Linked DNA regions of Homo sapiens: region 1 is linked to region 2. Evidence: fine-mapped expression QTL. Tissue or cell type: subcutaneous fat. Region 2 holds a variant in brackets; the other region holds the start of a gene. All regions are shown on one strand. Distances are from middle to middle.

Evidence for each region. PIP is the estimated chance that this variant, and not a neighbour inherited with it, causes the effect.
Region 1: it holds the start of NSMCE4A, and the variant in region 2 is fine-mapped to the expression of NSMCE4A in subcutaneous fat (GTEx, PIP 0.97).

Annotation. Positions count from the first base shown.
Region 1 is chr10:121,972,966-121,978,607 of GRCh38, reverse strand. It overlaps NSMCE4A (NSE4A component of SMC5/6 complex), which reads left to right and starts at 3,391. Exons shown (of 11, transcript NM_017615.3): 1 at 3,391-3,734; 2 at 4,527-4,604. The coding sequence starts at 3,443. LOC124902517 (a long non-coding RNA gene) reads right to left here and starts at 3,741. Exons shown (of 2, transcript XR_007062322.1): 1 at 2,453-3,741; 2 at 831-2,320. RefSeq lists an enhancer at 2,957-3,752 and a silencer at 3,190-3,989.
Region 2 is chr10:122,038,068-122,045,703 of GRCh38, reverse strand. All of the region lies in intron 2 of TACC2 (transforming acidic coiled-coil containing protein 2), which reads right to left. Among named protein-coding and RNA genes, the nearest start is that of TACC2, 53 kb to the right of the region's middle. The variant T/G (reference allele first, on the strand shown) is at 3,797.

The DNA of each region.
Region 1 (5,642 bases), 66 kb after region 2:
GCGGGGTCCCCCAACAGTGCCAGCCCACCAGCGCTGTGCTCCATTTCTCGGCGGGCCTTAGCTGCCTCCCCGCAGGGCAGGACTCAGGACCTGCAACCCGCCATGCCTGAGCCTCCCCCTGCCACCGTGGGCTCCAGCGTGGCCCGAGCCTCCCCGATGAGCGCCGCCCCCTGCTCCAGGGTGCCCGATCCCATCAACTGCCCAAAGGCTGAGAAGTGGGGTGCAGGGCGAGGGACTGGCAGGCAGCTCCACCAGCCACCCTGGTGCGGGATCCACTGGGTGAAGCCAGCTGGGCTCCTGAGTCTAGCGGGGACTTGGAGAACCTTTATGTCTAGCTAAGAGATTGTGAATACACCAATCAGCACTCTGTATCTAGCTCAAGCTTTGTAAATGCACCAATCAGCACTCTGTGTCTAGCTCAAGGTTTGTAAATGCACCAATCTGCGCTCTGTGTCTAGCTGATTTGGTGGGGACTTGGCGAACGTTTATGTCTAGCTAAGGGATTGTAAATACACCAATCGGCACTCTGTATCTAGCTCAAGGTTTGTAAATGCACCAATCAGCACTCTGTGTCTAGCTCAGGGTTTGTAAATACACCAATCAGCACTCTGTATCTAGCTAATCTAGTGGACAGGTGGAGAACTTTTGTGTCTAGCTCAGGGATTGTAAACGCACCAATCAGCACCCTGTCAAAATGGACCAATCAGCTCTCTGTAAAACAGACCCATCGGCTCTCTGTAAAATTGACCAATCAGCAGGATGTGGGTGGGGCCAGATAAGAGAATAAAAGCAGGCTGCCCTAGCCAGTAGTAGTAACCCACTCAGCTCACTTTGCACACTGTGGAAGCTTTATTTTTTCGCTCTTTGCAATAAATCTTGCTGCTGTTCACGCTTTGGGTCTGCACTGCTTTTATGAGTTGTAACACTCACTGTGAAGGTCTGCAGCTTCATTTCTGAGGCCAGCAATACCACAAACCCACCGGGAGGAACGAACAACTCCAGACACGCCGCATTAAGAGCTGTAACACTCACCGTGAAGGTCTGCAGCTTCACTCCTGAGCGAGTGAGACCACGAACCCACCAGAAAGAAGAAACTGCGAACACATCTGAACATCATAAGGAAAAAACTCCGGACACATCACCTTTAAGAACTGTAACACTCACTGCGAGGGTCCGCGGCTTCATTCCTGAAGTCAGTGAGACCAAGAACCCACCAATTCTGGACACACTTTCACCTGGAAGAACGCTAAGTATTCCATTACAGAACACTGAGCTACAAGCAACAACTATGAAACAATGACCTGGTTTAAACCATGATTTATGGCTTACTTTACAGGGAGTCTGGAGGCATGTGGTTGATTCAGCAATTCAGCCATGTCCATCTTTGCTCTCCAGTGTCTCCAGCACTCTAGTCTTTCCTCATGCTTGTCACCTCGTGAGTACCAGATGCTGCCAATATGGCAGGCTCCACATTTTTTCTTTCAGACGTTGTTTCATTCTTGTCACCCAGGCTGGAGTGCAATGGCGCGATCTCTGCTCACTGCAACCTCCACCTCCCAGCTTCAAGCAGTTCTCTTGCCTCAGCCTCCCGATTAGCTGGGATTACAGACACGCACCATTATGCCCGCTAATTGGCAGGTTCCCCATTTCTTATGCCAGCCATCTCAAAGGGGGTAGGGGGTCAAGGGTTTTCTTTTCAGGAAGGTTTGTATTCCATCCAGTTGGGAAACCCTTTCACATCTCACGGACCCAGGTTGCATCACATGACCCTTGACCAGTCACTGGGGAAGGGGAATGACATTACCGTGACCTGGTTAGAGTGATCACGTTTCATCTAAGGAAGTAGGCACACACGTCCCCTTCAGGAAATACAGATAAGCAGGGATGGGTGAGGTAGTAGCTGTTGGACAGCAATGAACAGTGCCTAACTTAAGTTTAGTAGACATGATGCACAAAATGGAATATTTGTAGGTTGTGTAATAACCCAACTTATAATATTGGTCTTTTGAGAAAATGTGTTCTTAGCACCAAAGACAACTTTTGGGAAACAATACTCGAATACAATCCAAAATGCACGGAGTGAAATTCATACATTTATCTTTCAAAGTATACTTAACATAATTCCATCTTTCTTGGGCCCTTCAGGAGGTATTCTTAGAATCTTCTAGTTTGAGAATCAGAATCAGGCTGTGCCTGGTGGCCCATGCTTGTAATCCCAGTACTTAGGGAGGCCGAGGTGGGCGGATCACTTGAGGTCAGGAGATGGGGTTGCAGTGAGCCAAGATAGTGCCACTGTACTCCAGCCTCGGCAGAGCAAGGTCTTAAAAAAAAAAAAAAAATCAAATGTGAACATAGACTGTCATTAAAATCAACCCAACAATCCCATAGACTGTTTACTATTTTTTTAATAAACTTAGAAATTATCATTTCTAGTCTTAAGGTTGAAACTTACCTTTGTTTTATCTGAGTTCCTTCCTCAGGAAAGGACCTCCAGAGCCTCTCAAAAAGTATCAAAAAACTGAAACTCGCCATATCACCGCATTCCAGACAATGAGATGCCAAGCCCCTCATGCATCCCCATAGCTTCCTTCCCCCTCCCGAGTTCCTCTTTTCCCATACATTGTTACATTGCTTCCCTGCAACTGTATAAACCCTTAATTTTAGTTGGTCAGGGCAATGGATTTGAGACTGAGCTTCCAACTCCCTGAGTGCAGCACCCTACTAAAGCCTTCTTCCTTGGTAATAATGGTTTTCTCAGTGATTTCTGTGAGGGGGCAGCGGGTCCTAGAACAAAACCCTGGTGCTCTGGTGACATTCTGTTGTAGATATTTAGAAGGATGTTTACCTGTTAATTTGTTCTGCTATCCTCACAAAAAATGGTATTGCCAGCTGCACATAAATATTTGATTCATCCACCCACCCCTGTTCCCCACCCCCCCGACCCCAGCCATGATGGCACAGGGAAACTGAGGTCGCAGGTGAGCAGCAGACCGCGTCTGGACTCCACATCCCGCGCTCATCCTGCTCCACAGCAGGAAGCTCGTTCAACACACATGGACTGCGTGCCCATGTGGGTGCCAGGCTGCGGCTGTGTCCTGGGCAGGCAAAGGGACCTAGGGAAGATGCAGGTCCAGGAGGGTGGGAAAGTAGGGGCAGAAAACCAAGATTCTCACAGCCCTGCAGTGTGGAGTAAGAGCTCATTACACCTCTTGTCAAGGGAACAAAGGATCCCCGCCAGGCCCCTCTTGTGCACCCAGCGGTCCCCCCAGGCGCCTTGGAGACCCGGCCGGGCCCGTCGCCGGCCTCCAGCCACAGGCGTCGCTGTGCGCTCGCGCGGGCCCGGGAGCCGCGTTCCGCCGGGAGCAGGCGCTGGCGCAGAGCAGGGGTTTCAGTTTCTGGCGCGAACTTCCGCCGTTCCGAAGTTGCACGGTGAATTGGCGCTATGTCTGGGGACAGCAGCGGCCGCGGGCCAGAGGGCCGGGGCCGGGGCCGCGACCCGCATCGGGATCGCACCCGCTCCCGCTCCCGCTCGCGGTCCCCTTTGTCGCCCAGGTCCCGCCGCGGCTCTGCGCGGGAGCGCAGAGAGGCCCCAGAGCGCCCGAGCCTGGAGGACACAGAGCCGTCGGATTCCGGGGACGAGATGATGGACCCGGCCAGCTTGGAGGCGGAGGCCGACCAAGGCCTGTGCCGCCAGATCCGCCATCAGTACCGGGCGCTCATCAACTCCGTCCAACGTAAGGCGGCGCCTCCGGGCGGCGCGGGCCCGGACGGGCCGCTGTCCCCGCCCTGCGCCGGGCGCGGGGGGAGGGCACCGGAGGCAGGTGCCGGGCGGAGGCCCGGCGCGGCGTTAGTAGAGACGCGCCGGGTGCCAGCCCCTCGCCGCACCTTAAATTGTTGACAAAGTGCTCCCACTTTGTGGCTGGAGCCGTACGACCTTGGCGCGGGTCCCCGAGTGGCGGGCTGGAAAAGCTGGAGGCCAGAGCCGTTCGCGGACTCGCCCGAGCCCAGCCAGCCAGTGGGGAGAGGCAGGACGCGGACTCCGCGTGCTTTGATTGCGCCCGGCAGTCCTCGGCGTGGGCTCCCGGCCTCGCAGCGGCAGCTGCAGCTGCAGCGGCACGCGAGAGCTGTCAAATGCACGTTCTCGGACCCCACCCGGACCCGCGGAATTCGAATCTCTGGGTGGGTCCGCGCAACTGTGGAGTGGCCCTCCAGGTGATGGTGTGTATTGCTTGCAAAGTTTGAGAACCACTCAGTTATGGAGCACTCAGAGGCTGCAGCCGGAGTCCAGCCCTTTGGGTTAAGGTTAGAGGGAGCTAGGGTTTCCTTTTAAAATTCATGCTGCATAAAGGGTAGGGTGGCCTTTCTCCTTTTCCGGGTCATTTTGGTTAAAAAGATAAAGATGTTCGAAGTAATTACTCAGAGCGCAGGGGCCGGGGCTTGGCTTTACTGTTGCAGGTGATAACCTTGTCAACTGCTTATTAGTGAATGCTGAACAAATTTCCCAAAGTTTGTATTTTTAAAAATAGAAAACCGTGAGGACATACTGAATGCCGGTGACAAATTAACAGAGGTCCTTGAAGAGGCTAACACTCTGTTTAATGAAGGTAATTTGTTATTTTATATGTTATTTCGTGTTTTATGATACTTTTAATTAGTGTTACATAAGCGCCAAATTATTGACATAAAACAATTCCCACATTTGTAATAGTGCTTTCCCAGTTCGGGAACCGTTTCATTATAGCAATAATGCCATTTTTATTATGCACTTACCATATAATAAGGGCTTTACATGAAAATTTGGGGGTAGGTTCCGCAGTCTGTGTTAAGCCCCCAGTTGATTCTGTTGCCTCTTCAAGTTTGAGAACGTTACATGTGTTATCTTGTTTCTTTTTCTTGTGTTTACTGCCGTATCCCTAGTATACATTGGTTGAGTGGATGAATTACAGAACTGAGCTAGCCTCTGAAATCCTGTTTCTTTTCCTGTCCCATTCTGTTTTGCCTTCCTCAGCTCCCTGCTATTGGTCCACGTGTAACACAATGGAGGTGGCAAAGCCTGCAAGTGTACCTGCTGGTCTCCAGTCTGGGGTGTGTTGTGTGTGAGTGAGTGAGTGAGAGAGATCCCAGAGCACTGAACTCTAGGCCATGGGTGCTTTAAAAAATAACCTTAGTTTGAATTGAAAGCAGAGGCAGTGGTATTGGTAGCAGCTGTCTGTCTGCTTGGTGACAGAGGGGTACTCCCTGATGTGGGTACTTGGTCATAGAGCCACAGGACTACTACCCAGACCACTGTCCCCTCCAGCCCTCTCTGACGGGTCTGTGGGAACATAGGGGAGAATGCAGCCAAATATATCCTTTTTTTTTTTTTTTTTGAGGTTTGAGATGGAGTCTCTGTTGCCCAGGCTGGAGTGCAGTAGCACAATCTCGGCTCACTGCAACCTCCACCTCCCAGGTTCAAGCAATTCTCCTACCTCAGCGTCCCGAGTAGCTGGGATTACAGGTGTGCTCCATCACACCCAGCTAATTTTTGTATTTTTAGTAGAGACGGGTTTCGCCATGTTGGCCAGGCTGGTCTCGAACTCCTGACCTCAGGTAATCCACCTGCCTCCGCCTCCCACAGTGCTGGGATTACAGGCATGAGCCAC
Region 2 (7,636 bases):
GTTTTCCATTTTCCAGATAAGAAACAGAGAGGCTTGCCTTCTGCCCTCTGCAAGTCTCCCACCTTGAAGTCCAGTGCTCTTTCCACAAGAATACTGACACCCAGCATTTACATAGCTCTCTTTCTGCTACGACAGCAGCAACCTAATTATTAGGAACACTTTCTGTGTGTCTAGTACTGCTCTTTTAAGTGCTTTACATATTTAAACTCATTCAATCCTTAGAGCCCGATGTTATAGCTAAGAATACTGGGCACAGAGAGGTTAAGCCACTTGCCCAAGATCACACAGCTTGGAAGTGGTGGAGCCAGGATTTGGACCAGGATGGTTTGGCTCCAGAGTCTGTGCTCTTGTCCCTGCCTTACGCTGCTTCGCCATACAGTGGAATTCGTTGCTCTATGGCCTCTGCCATTTTGCTGCTATGCTCCAAGGAATTATAGCAATTGGACATTTGAGAATAATGTGGTATAGGAGCCTAGATTTGATGCCCAGAATAGCACCTGGCACAGAAGAGGCAGTCCATAAATATTTGTTGAATGTATGAAAAGTAGATTATTCTTATTTAGTCTGGTGGCCATGTCTGCAAATCGAAAGACGTACCCTCAGCCCTGGGAACTCTCGCTTTTGCCACATTTCCCTGTGCTTTTGAATCCCCCTTCCTGTTCCCCGTCTTAGAGATAGTCTTAAGCTCTATTGCTTACTGGATTCCAAAGGACCTGTGTGTCAGCAGGCGTCACTGCAAAACAGCATGCATTTCTAAAGTTACCCTTTACACTTCCAAATCGCAGGCTGGAAAAACAATTGGCAAGCCTTACAGGACACGTGGACTCGCCCAGTTGCTTCTTCAAATCTTTCCCTCGCTGCCATTGCTTGAGTAAACAAACAGTCTTTCGTTGGCTCTGGAACACTCCAGAGCCTGGAGTCTATTTTAAAGCAATCTTTAAACAGTTACAGCAATTTTCCAGTCCTAAAAAATATACTTTGTAAAGAGCTAAAGCATTTCACCATAAAAAAAAAAAAAAAATTCCACTTACCTCTTAAACGCTCCATCACTCTAGACCACTGCTTACTGGTCATGCCAATAGAGTTAATTAAACCATGCTTAATTAACATGGTTAGATCATGACCAGAGTGTCTGCCTAAGTCGCCCCCTCTTTGAACGAGCTCCTTGGGAGCAGCTTGACTGCAGGTGAATGCTGGGAAGCAGACCAAAGGTCATCCCCATGGCATTAGGAATCGGATTTCAGAAACAACTGCCAGGCTGACCAAATATGGAGGATGAACACATGCTCTGTGCTAGAGCCAGCCGGCTGCCCATCTTCCCTGTCAAGGGAAGGCAAATGCTCACACCAGTTCTGCTAGACCATCCCAAATGTTTCTTCCCCTCCAAGGGGGTACAAAAGATTGACGAATACAGGTTGCAGAGGACACCTCAGCCTAACCTAGCAGGCACTCTGTCAGGCCAACAAGCGAAAGGCTGCCAGCGTGGGATTTCAGCTTTCCGCAAACGGAATGTTTTCTGATGTGATACAGCACGATAGAGCAGAAGAAATGAATAAGCTTCGAAGCCCGAGAGAGCTGGGTTTGAGTCCTCACTCTTCCTTTAAAAGATGGAAAATAACAGAATAGAGTTTGACGTGTGTTTTGATGATTATGCCTCATGAATAGTAAGGGCTGGGTCTAGGTTCTGGGTAGACACTGATGACTAAAACAGGCATGGTGTAAAATGTTAACTTTAGGAGAAGCCGGGGAAGCATCTATATGGGAGCTCTCCATACAATCTTTGCAACTTTTCTATAAATCTGAAAATACTCTAAAGTAAAATTTGGCCAGGCACAGTGGCTCATGCCTGTAATCCCAGCACTTTGGGAGGCCGAGGCGGGCAGATCACTTGCGGTCAGGAGTTCGAACCCAGGCTGGCCAACATGGCGAAACCTCATCTCTACTAAAAGTACAAAAATTAGCCAGGTGTGGTGGTGGGCACCTGTAGTCCCAGCTACTCAGGAGGCTGAAACACAAGAATCACTTGAACCTGGGAGGTGGAGGTTGCAGTAAGCCAAGATTGTGCACTGCACTTCAGTCTGGCAACAGAGTGAGACTCTGTAAGAAAGAAAGAAAGGAAGAAAGGAAGAAAGAAAGAGAGAGAGAGAGACAGAGAGACAGAGAGAGAGAGAAAGAAAGAAAAGAAAGAAAAAGAAAGAGAAAAAGAAAGAAAGAAAAAGAAAGAGAAAAAGAAAGAAAGAAAGAGAAAGAAAGAAAGAAAGAAATCTAATTATAAAAAGAGACACATGGTTCCTACTACCCTCATGGAATTTTGAATTTAGTGAATGAATGAGTGATATTTAGTAAATCATATCTGCCTTCCCTTCCTCAGAAGCATTTGGGTCACAAGCGGTGGCCATTACCCTAAAAGGATTCAGGAACCTCAAAGATGTAAGAGGTGACATGTTCTGATGTCTGTAGTTTGTAGGTGGCAGACTAAAGGCTTCAAAAACATACCCAATGTTGATGACCTGTATGTATTTAATATTTTAGAAACAATATGATTTAAAGAGAATTGGATGAGGTCAGAAAATCCAAATCCATGTGCCCTTGGTCAGATCAGTTCCTCTCTCCAAGCCTCTCTCTCTCCGTCAATAAACTGGGGACCACAATCTCTGCCCTTCCCTACCTCAGTGGGTGATAGGAATGCCTTGTAAACAACAACTGTACAAATAAAAGGGAGAGTCTCTTTATTCAAAGAGCTGGGCATGTCAGGATGGCCTGTACCATGCTGTGATGTTTACTTGATTATACTTAAAGTGCAGACATAAACTTTATTTCTTTTGCCCCTCTAGAATCCCTGTATCCACTCATTTTCATGCTACAGCAGCATGGTTTAAGAATGAGCAGGCAGGAAGCTGAGTACAATTGTTCTGAAACCCAAGCTTTACTGCTTATTTAGCTGTAAGTCTCTGGGTTCTACACCTCGAGTACCGTATCTGTAGAATGGGGGTCATAACTGCAGGGTTGTTCTGAAGGTTAAATAAAGGACAAGGCTAGACCACGTAGACATTGTACATGCTGGTTGTTACTGTATAAAGAAGAAACAGATTCAAAACTCATTAATGAAGAGCCCCATTGGCTATCTCAGCTTAGAGCAAAAGCAGTTAATCAGAAGTTCAGGCTGGGTGCAGTGGCTCAAGCATGTAATTCCAGAACTTTGGGAGGCTGAGGCGGGTGGATCACTTGAGGTCAGGAGTTCGAGACCAGCCTGGCCAACATGGTGAAACCCCATCTCTACTAAAAATAGAAAAATTAGCTGGGCATGGTGGCAGGGACCTGTAATCCCAGCTACTTGGGAGGCTGAGGCAGGAGAATCGCTTGACCCCGGGAGGCAGAGGTTGCAGTGAGCTGAGACTGTGCCACTGAACTCCAGCCTGGGCGACAGAGTGAGACTCTCTCTCAAAAAGAAGAAGAAAAGGCCATGTGCAGTGGCTTACGCCTGTAATCCCAGCACTTTGGAAGGCTGAGATGGGCAGATCACGAGGTCAGGAGATTGAGACCATCCTGGCTAACACGGTGAAACCCCGTCTCTACTAAAAATACAAAAAGTTAGCCGGGCGTGGTCGCGGGCGCCTGTGGTCCCAGCTACTCGGGAGGCTGAGGCAGAAGAATGGCGTGAACCTGGGAGGTGGAGCTTGCAGTGAGCCGAGATCGCGCCACTGCACTCCAGCCTGGGTGACAGAGCGAGACTCCGTCTCAAAAAAGAAAAGAAAAAAGAAAAGAACAGCTCCTCCCAAAGTTAACATTTTACACA[T/G]TTATTCAGAAGATGCATCTGGCCAAAACCTGGAGCCGTGTTGTTCACACACTTGCGTAATCGTGCCAGTGAAAACTAGCACCGACCCTCCGGGCTGGGGGAACCCCACAGCAGGGGCTGTGGGAGCAGACAGGTGACAGTAAAGAAACTCTCTGCTGTCAAGGCCGGGTGCTGTGGCTACACCTGTAATCCTAGCACTTTGGGAGGCCAAGGTGGGTGGGTTACCTGAACTCAGGAGTTCGAGCCTGGCCTGGGCAACACGGTGAAACCCTGTCTCCACTAAAATACAAAAAAGTAGCCAGGCATGGCGGTGTGCACCTGTAATCCCAGCTACTCAGGAGGCTGAAACAGGAGAACTGCTTGAACCCAGGAGGCGGAGATTGTAGTGAGCCGAGATCGCGCCATTGCATTCCAGCCTGGGTGACAAAGCAGGACTCTGTCTCGTTACGAGAAAAAAAAAAAAAAAGAAAGGAAACTCTGTGCTGTCATGAAGATTGAATTAATTCTTGCTGCTTAACTTGTTCTTTGCTCAACTTCTTTCACATTAAACACATTAAAGCAGCCCAGATGCCCACCTGCAGCCTGTGGAATATTGGGAAATGCTCCCTGTCCTGCACTGGCTGAGTGTTGCTGTAATGCTGAGTTCCTCAAGAGCTAAAGAAGGGACCTTCAAGTTAACCGTAGAGCACCAAGCATAGCTTTAAACAAGATGTGCACATATATATGGCACTTTCCTCTGTCAAGCAAAGTAACAACCACACAGCGCCTGAGCAACATACAACCTCAGCCTTTCTTGATGACCAGACCCTGGGGACGGCTCGCATACACAGATTCTCCTGTCCTCCTGGTCCTCTGTTCCTCAGATGTCCACATTGCTGAGGTCTCCTGCAGCAGCAAACCTCATTCAGACCACATCTTGTACGCAGAGCAGGGACCCGACCCGGGGGGACCTGCCCAAGCTGGGGGAGGCGTGTCTGCTGAGCTGGCTCTGGGTCCTTCTGATGTCACCTACTTCCTGCTCATTTGCAGCTCTGAGCTCAAACATCAGCTCCCCAGAAGCGCCTTCCTTGACACCCAGGCTAGGTCTGGGGTCTGTGCACCTGTCTTCTTGCTTCATAGCATTGATCACAGTTTCTAGAGTTGAAAATTATGTTTTTTGGGACTTGTTACAGAAACACCCAGACAATAGAAGTGTTAGAATGGAGTTACTGAATGATGATATGTTTTAAGTGAGATCATTATAATAATAGGATTGAATGTCTTTTCTTCCTCCCCACACGGTCAGAGCTATAAATGGGAATCATGACAGCCCCATGGCCAAGCGGAACTCCAGAGAGTGGTAATGGAGGGGTTAGGGTTGCCCTTCCCTTCTGAAATCCACATGCTTGGAGCTTGGAGCTCAGATGTCCCCTGTAGGGCTCTCCAGAACTGAACAACTGTGAAGCCCACCTTCAGGATTTGGGGCTGTGGGCTGGCATGGCCCTTATTTCACCACAGAGCTTTCTAAACAAGTCAGGATGCATGAAACCCCTGGAAGGGCTGTCGAGTGGAGACAGCTCTCATCACAGCGTCACCACCACCTCTTTCCCAGAGAGGGACACACATAAGCCAGGACCCTGACACTCCCGGGAACAGGTGATGCCCCCCTTGGCTGGGTGTTAGACAGTCTCCCAACTTCCCATTGGACCGTGTCCTCCCACTCCCCAAACGAGTCACCCTTTAGAGCCGTGGTTATACATTTCTCTTCATTTCCAACCATCAGGTGGTGCAATACATCACCTGTGCAAGTGTACTTTAGTAACCGAGGCTGCTTAGAGCCCCCTGAGAACAGCCTCCCAGGAGGCCTAAGTGAGTCCATTCCCAAAGGAAGGAGCAAGGGTAACAACTAGGACTCAGCTTGCTGCAAAAGGCACCCACAAGGGGCTGGGCTGAGGCTCCATGGCCCCAGCTCAGTAAGAGGAACCTCCAATTAGCAGATAGAAGAGGTTTCAGGCTGAGTGTGGGAATTTTCCTCTGTCGATGGCTTCTCTTCCCTCAGGAACAGAGAACAGAACCCAAAGCTACCACTAAAATTCAGAGTTTCAATAGCATTTGTGCTGACAAAACAAGAAATCACTGTGACTGGTTGGCAGGATAGGAAGGTAAGACTGTTGTGATGTTATTAAAATTGACTACTTGAATAAGATAAATCAGTTTGTAATTAATGCAGCAATTAATTGTTTTCAAAAAGTGTCAAAAGCAAATACTGTCGAAATAAACTGCCGGCTCACTGCCTAGAGGCTCCGAGGAGAGGTCCTGTTGTGCTTACCTCCCTGCCTCCCTCATCTGCCTGAAGGCCCAGTCCTCCCAGGCACTTGTTGTCCCCCAACCCCACATCTCAGGCCGCCCCAGACCCTGCTGCCTCATCTGACCTTGTCTCCACCCCCACCTTCCAATTCCCACGCCTTTTTCTGCACTCAGATCAGCAGCCTGAACCCTCATATCCCAGGATCATCACGGAACAGACCCTTAACCTTCCCACCTTACCCATGCCAGCTGCCCTCTGAGAACCTACCAGGTTCCAACCCTCTCAAGGGGAGGCTGATTTTCCTTCCACAAGCCCAGAAGATCATGGTTTCAAAATAGAGTCAGGAGGCCAGCACGGTGGCTCACACCTGTAATCCCAGTACTTTGGGAGGCCAAGGTGAACAGATCACCTCAGGTCAGGAGTTCGAGACCAGGATGGCCAACATGGTGAAACCCCATCTCTACTAAAAATACAAAACTTAGCCAGGCATGGTGGCACCTGCCTGTAATCCCAGCTACTCCGGAGGCTGAGGCAGGGGAATCATTTGAACCCAGGAGGCAGAGGTTACAGTGAGCCAAGATTGTGCCACTGCACTCCAGCCTGGCTGACAGAGTGAGACTCCGTCTCAAAACAAAACAGAAAAAAAGCAAAAAACACATGAGTCAGGAACCTTGTGTCCCCCGCCAATGTTCTTTCTAAGCCATTTCACTTCCCCCACCTGCAAAACTCAATGTCCCTTTAATGCAATGATGCTGTAACTGAGTATCCCATTTTTCTAAGAGAAAGAAAATGGTTTTAATTATTTTTTTTCTTTTCTCTCTCCTTCTTTTCTCATGTTCCTCACTTCCTACTTAGCGCTTTAGAAATGCAATTATAACCTTATAACCTTGACCTTCCCTTCACCAGACACTCCCTATAGGACAAGCTTATCTGACTCTGTGCTCACTTAGAAGCTCCAGAGCCAGAAAGCTCTCCCAGCAGGAGATTGCCTCAAGAAACAACTGTCAATTTCCAACCTCAAGTACGCCCACGACGGAAGTCTTTCCCACCTGGAGAGCGTCTCAAGACAACGACCACCTTAGAACCTAGTTTTGTGCCAGCTGGACCACCTGGTGGATAAGGCACTGAAGTGAGTCCAGTGGTCCCCCACCTACTCACTCCCTCCCCACCTGCTGTGCATGCAAAGTCCCCCCTTTAAAAGTCCCTGCTTTCTGCCCCAAAAGCAAAGCAGTGCCCTTAAAAGCAGAAGCCTGTACTTTTCCCCCTAAGCTAAGCTTTAGAATAAAAAGTCACTTTTTTCATGTCAGCCCTCACTCGTTTTTTGGTTTGTGTGTTTGTTTATTTGTTTTTTGAGACAAGGTCTCACTCTTGTCACCCAGGCTGGAGTGCAGTGGCGCCATCTTGGCTCACTGCAACCTCTGCCCCCTCTCCCCCAAGGGCTTAAGTGATCCTTCCACCTCAGCCTCCCAAATAGCTGGGACCACAGGTGCACACCACCACACCCTGCTAATTTTTTGTATTTTTAGTAGAGACAGGGGTCTCGCCATGTTGCA